Linked DNA regions of Homo sapiens: region 1 is linked to region 2. The links come from fine-mapping of genetic effects on gene expression. A gene starts in region 2. The other region holds a variant in brackets. All regions are shown on one strand. Distances are between the middles of the regions. Region 1 has its middle 11 kb from the start of FTH1. Region 2 holds the start of BEST1 (bestrophin 1).

Region 1 (2,912 bases), 29 kb before region 2:
TTAGTAGAAACGGGGTTTCACCATGTTCGCCAGTCTAGTCTCAAACTCCTGACCTCAGGTGATCCGCCCGCCTCAGCCTCTCAAAGTGCTGGGATTACAGGCGCGAGCCACCGCGCCCAGCCCAGCATCCAGCATTTTTGTTGTTCCCCCTTATTCCCTCCATGCCTTGCTAGGGATAACCTGGTAAACAAACAGAAATCTCAAATTCAATAAGCACCCCCATTTGATAAGCATTTACTAAATCCCCATATGGGAGGCACCATGGGCAAACAGTGGAATGACAAGTGGATAACAGGATGGAGCCGAATGATCTGGGCAGTGGGTGGGGACAAGGAGCGGTTCAGAGTGTGGGCTCTGGACTGGAACAGCAGGTGTGTGTCCTTGGGCAAGGTACTTTGTAGTTCTGTGCTTCAGTTTCCTCATCTGTCGAATGACATGTTTGGCCTATGTAGTAAGGGGTCAAGAAGTATCTGCTTTTATTAATAAGTATTAGTTTTTATTCTTACTTGATTCATTTTTAAGAAAAGAGTCTGAGTCTAACCCACCCAGCTGGGTGGAGCTTGGGCCTGAGGACCCCTGCCCTTGGAATACAGGAGTTTTGGGCTAAAGAGCTGACCAAGCTGGTTGGGCTTAAGGCAAACTCCAGAGACCAGTTCCAACTCCCGAGGCTCCCATTCCAGGCTCTTAAGGGGAAACTGCAGGATGGGCCCTCCGTTACCTGGAGTTAAGTGCAAAGAACCATCTCTCACGGGGCAGTACTGGCTCAAGCGAGACCCAGTCAGACAAAGCTCAAGACCTTTTCACAACGCTTGTGAGATGGGGCAGGGCAGGGGGTCCTAACTTTACCCCCCGTTTCGCCCCCCAGCAGGGCAAGGATTCCCCTTTCTCACGATGATTCAATCACATCCAACCAGAGTCTTAGCTGAGGCCCTGCCAGGTGCCAGGGCCTGGTCCCATTCCTGGGAGCAGAGATGAAGACCAGCTTCCTACAAGCCTCCTATGATGCCTTCCTACGAGCCTCCCCTATGATGATGCAATGGCACAGGGCCTCCTGTCACTCAGTAAAGGCCGAAGGAATAAACATTAGCAGGAATAAGAGACAAGCTCTGAATCCAGGAAGACTTCTCGGCAGAGGCAGGATCTGGACTGCAGCTTGGAGAAAGGGTGGATCTTTGATAGATAAAAGTGAACAGCTAGGGGAGGAAAGACTTCAACAAAGGACAGAGGCGGGGGACCAGGGGTGCGGTGGGGCACCCCAGGGGCTGGTGTGGATGAAGCAGAGGACTGTTGGGGCCCAGAGGAGGGACACCAGAGGACAAGCCCTCAGGCAGCCCCACGAGCCTGTTTTGCCCCCCGCCAGAGAGCTGAGGCTGGCACACAGGGGTGGGAGAAGTTCCTTTGTCCTTCTCCTCTTTCTCTGCAACCCTGCCCAGGAAACCAATGATAGCTGCTTGGCACAGAGTTCCCTGTGTTTTTTCATAATCACATAACCGTAC[T/G]TGAGCACTGCCAGAAGAATTTAATCTCAGGAAGCAGAGAAGCATGAGGAAAGAAGGCTGGTGTGGGAGTCAGAAGGCCTAGGTTTTGGTCCTTGGCTCAGCCACCGACTTTCCCTGTAACCCTGATCTGGTCACCCCAAATCCCCAGCCCCAGATATCATTTTCTTCATCTAACCCAAGGACTGGCATAGAGCTGGCATTTAAAAATGTTTGAAGCCAAGTGCAGTGGCTCAGGCCTGTAATCCCAAGCTTTGGGGAGGCTGAGGCAGGAGGATCTTTGGAGGTCAGGAGTTTGGGACCAGCCTGGGCAATATAGTGAGACCCCATCAAAAATTGCTCTAATTAGCCAGGTGTAGTGGCATGCACCTGTAATCCCAGCTACTCAGGAGGCTGAGGTGGGAGGACTACTTGAGCCCAGGAGTTGGTGGCTGCAGTGAGCTACGATCGTGCTACTGCACTCCAGCCTCGGTGACAGAGTTGAGACCCTGTCTCTATTTTTAAAAAAATAATAACAAAATAAAAACATTAGTTGAGTGATTGAAAGTATTAGATAGTCTCAAAGGCTCCTTCCTGTCTTGAAAATTCTGAGACCCATGCAGGAATCAGTTGCCATTTAGATGATGTAAAACAGTGGTCCCCAGCCTTTTTGACACCAGGCACCGGTTTTGTGGAAGACAATTTTTTCCATGGACAAGGGGTGGGGGAGGGAGATGGTTTCAGGATGAAACTGTTCCACCTCAGATCATCAGGCATTAGTTAGGTTCTCATAAGGAGCGCACAACCTAGATCCCTGTCACGTGCAGTTCACCGTAGGGTTCACACTCCTATGAGAAGCTAATGCCACTGCTGATCTGACAGGAGGCAGAGCTGGGATAACCAGCAGGCAGAGCTTGGAGGTAATGTTCATTCACCCACTGCTCACCTCCTGCCATGCAGCCTGGAGGTGCACAGTCTATGCACCTTCGGTACCAGTCTATGGACCAGGGGTTGGGGACCCCTGATATAAAAGGTAAGTTGACTGAAAAATCTGTTGCAAGTAAAACAAAACATGTCTATCCCTGAATCTAGGGATGGAGGCAGTTCCAATTATAGCACATCACAGAGGTTGGAGGGAGGGAAATAGTTCCCCAGAGGAAAATCTGGATCTAGTGTCCAGAAGACAGGTGGATATTGGGGAGTAGGTATGGATCTGGAGAAATCAATTCCAGAAAAAAGCAAAAAGCAAAACATCCGGATTCCTGCCACTACACATACACACCCCTGTCCACCCACATACACACCCACGATATTGAAAGGGCAGCTGGATAGGTGAGTAAATAGTGGGGAAAAACGAGAGCCACTTGGTTCCAACTAATGCTTTCAAAGAATTACAAAAGGCAGGGATGTTTGACAGGGGGTTAGCATATCATCCGTGCA
Region 2 (2,912 bases):
GGCCCTGCCAGTTCTGACTGCCTTTTGGAAGTAGAAACGCAAGAAAGTGAGCCCAGAGGCTGCCCTTTGCTTTGGCAGGGAAGACGTAGATAGGCGTGTGCATTGCCATGTGCCTTTAACTTTCTATAATCACTGGGCGCAGTGGCTCATGCCTATAATCCCAGCACTTTGGGAAGTCGAGGCAGGTGGATCACCTAAGGTCAGGAGTTCGAGACCAGCCTGGCCAACATGGTGAAACCCTGTCTCTACTAAAAATACAAAAAAATTATCCAGGCGTGGTGCGGGTGCCTGTAATCCCAGCTACTCAGGAGGCTGAGGCAGGAGAATCGCTTGAACCCAGGAGGTGGAGGTTGCAGTGAGCTGAGATCACGCCATTGCACTCCAGCCTGGGTAAGAAGAGCAAAACTCTGTCTAAAAATAAATAAATAAATAAATAAATAATACAATGACAAAGGCAGTAACAGCAGCAATGTCTACACACTAAGCTCAGGTCCTCTGGGCTAGGCAGTGTTCTCAGCCCATCTTGTTCGTTAGCTCCCAAGCTCTCTCAACCACCCTAGTGTGAGAAGTATGGAAGGGACCAGGCAGCCCTGTCCACCACCATATTCCCATTCCCATAATGGAACCTAGCTGGTAGAGATGCTCAAATGATGTTTACTGAATGGTGGCTCCAGGGCCTTTCCACCTGCTGATCTTCCTGCCTGGAGGAAGCTCTTCCTGAGATACCTGCATGGTTCCTTCCCACTCCAGGTTCCCTTTAGAAAGGATGTTCCCAACCATCCAACCTGGAAATAGAGCCCCACTGCCACCGGTGCTCTGTGTCTCCTCACCTTGCTTGATATTTCTAGAGAGCACTTATCACTACTTGAAATTATACAGGATATCTGCCTGTTTCCTGCCTGTTTCCTCCTCAGAATGGAAGCTCCTCTTGTGTTCTCGTAGAAGGCGCTCAATAAAAATTTACTGAAGCAGTGATTGATGCCCCCTCCATTCTTTCCCTGTGTGTTTTGCTGCAGCCACACTGGCTGGCTGTGCCTGATGCACACCAAGCTCATTCCCACCTCAGGGCATTTGCACAGACACACAGGTGCCCACACACCTGCGCATGTGCTGCCTGTGTGTGCATATCCCACACAAATACGCAAGATGGCCATCCAACCCTGAAGGCCTCAAAGCCCCAGCCCAGTCCACCTGGGGCACCTTGTACTCACAGGTGGGGTTCCAGGTGGGTCCGATGATCCCACAGAAGGTCTGGCGACTAGGCTGGTGGGACTCCCTGGGACTCTGTGGCCAGTGCCCCTGCCCACTCTTAGAGGCTGGCACTGCCCACGTGAGTGCTGAGCCGCCGTCACTTGACTCCCTAAGCCAGGACCTCCACAAAGGAGTCCTTGTCTTAGTCCCTTCTTGTAATCTGCTCAGAAGCAACGGCTAGCACAGCCTGGCCATGGCCCCTCTAATTTCTTCTTGGAGGGTGTTGGGCTGAGACCAGGGCTGGAATTTAGGGCAACACCCCCTCTACCATGGCCCTAAAATCCAGAGGCTAAAGGATCTGCTCCACCAGTGTTCTGACCCCTGAGGCCTTGCAGAGAGAGTTGGGGGTTAGGGGGCTGTGCTGAGCTTCAACTTCTGTGCCAGGAACTCTCCAGGAAGGAGGAGCCTCTGACTAGGCCCTGGGGTCTTTGACAGCCCTGTGGGCTATGGAAAGAATGAATACCGGGCTGCAGTCAACAGTCCTGGTTTCTGGTCCCAGCCTTGCCACCTGTGTGTGGTGACCCCGGGTAGGTTTCAGCTCCTCTCTCAGCCTCAGTGCCCTTATCTGAAAAGGATGGTGTTGCTTGGGAATTTCATCACCCTAGTAAAATGACAGAATTCTGCATATGCTGACGAGGAGCTCTGATTGGCTGCTGGTGACATCATACGTTATTCTGGCTGTGATTGGCTGGCAGGGCCCATCAGTAAGTTGCTTCAGAGAGATGGAAGGAGAAGCCTGCCGGGGCTGGTGGAGGGGGGTGAGTCTGGTGGGGGTTGACAGAACAGCCCTGGAGTTTATGCTGCTGGCTTCCAGCCAGCCAGTGCAATATGGGAATAAATGCCCAGATCCCCACGGGCAGCTGGTGAAAATCTCAGCATGTGATTCAATAAATTTTAATACATCAATCCATACTCAAGGGCTCTCCTAAGCTGTTGGAAGTGGTGGGTGTCTACCTACACACTCCTCTTGTATTGTTCAATGAAGAGAGCAGAGCTCTAGGCAGCAGTGGTTCTTGGTCTTTAGAGGCCGTAAGAATCGCCCAAATGTTTATTAAACGGGCAGTTTTCTGGATCTTTCTCCAGAGTCTGAGTCTGTGGCCTTAGGGATGTTGCATTTTAATCAAGCACTGCAGGGGATTATGAGATGTGTGGTTTTGGGACTAAACTTCCAGAAGCCCTGATTTTATAATATGACCTTGTGTCTTAAACCCACTCTCATCCTCCCTTTCCTGTCACCCTCTCTCTCTGAAATGTACTAAGCGTTAACTATGCTGAGATTGCAGGTGATTTTTCTACACACCACTTTTTTTTTCACTTTAAGTTCTGGGATACGTGTGCAGAATGTACAGGTTTGTTACATAGGTATACATGATGTGCAGGTTTGTTACATAGGTATACGTGTGCCATGGTGGTTTGCTGCACCTGTCAACCCATCATCTAGGTTTTAAGCCTTGCGTGCATTAGGTATTTGTCCTAATGCTCTCCCTCCCCTTGTCCCCCACCCCCACACACCATTTTTGCCTTTATATAATTATCTGCCTAGAAAAAAAAACACTATTTCGCAATGACCTTGAATACTTTTCTAATCATGGCAAACAATAAAGCTGTTGTTATTATAAGACTCTCTTTAGAGGCAGCCTTGTAGGAGTATTTACTGCCTC

What was found.
Region 1: its variant is fine-mapped to the expression of BEST1 in whole blood (TOPMed, PIP above 0.99).

What each region holds. Positions count from the first base shown.
Region 1 is chr11:61,977,404-61,980,315 of GRCh38, reverse strand. No RefSeq gene overlaps it. Among named protein-coding and RNA genes, the nearest start is that of FTH1, 11 kb to the right of the region's middle. RefSeq lists a silencer at 1,719-1,935. The variant T/G (reference allele first, on the strand shown) is at 1,497.
Region 2 is chr11:61,948,727-61,951,638 of GRCh38, reverse strand. BEST1 (bestrophin 1) reads right to left here and starts at 1,288. Exons shown (of 11, transcript NM_004183.4): 1 at 1,212-1,288.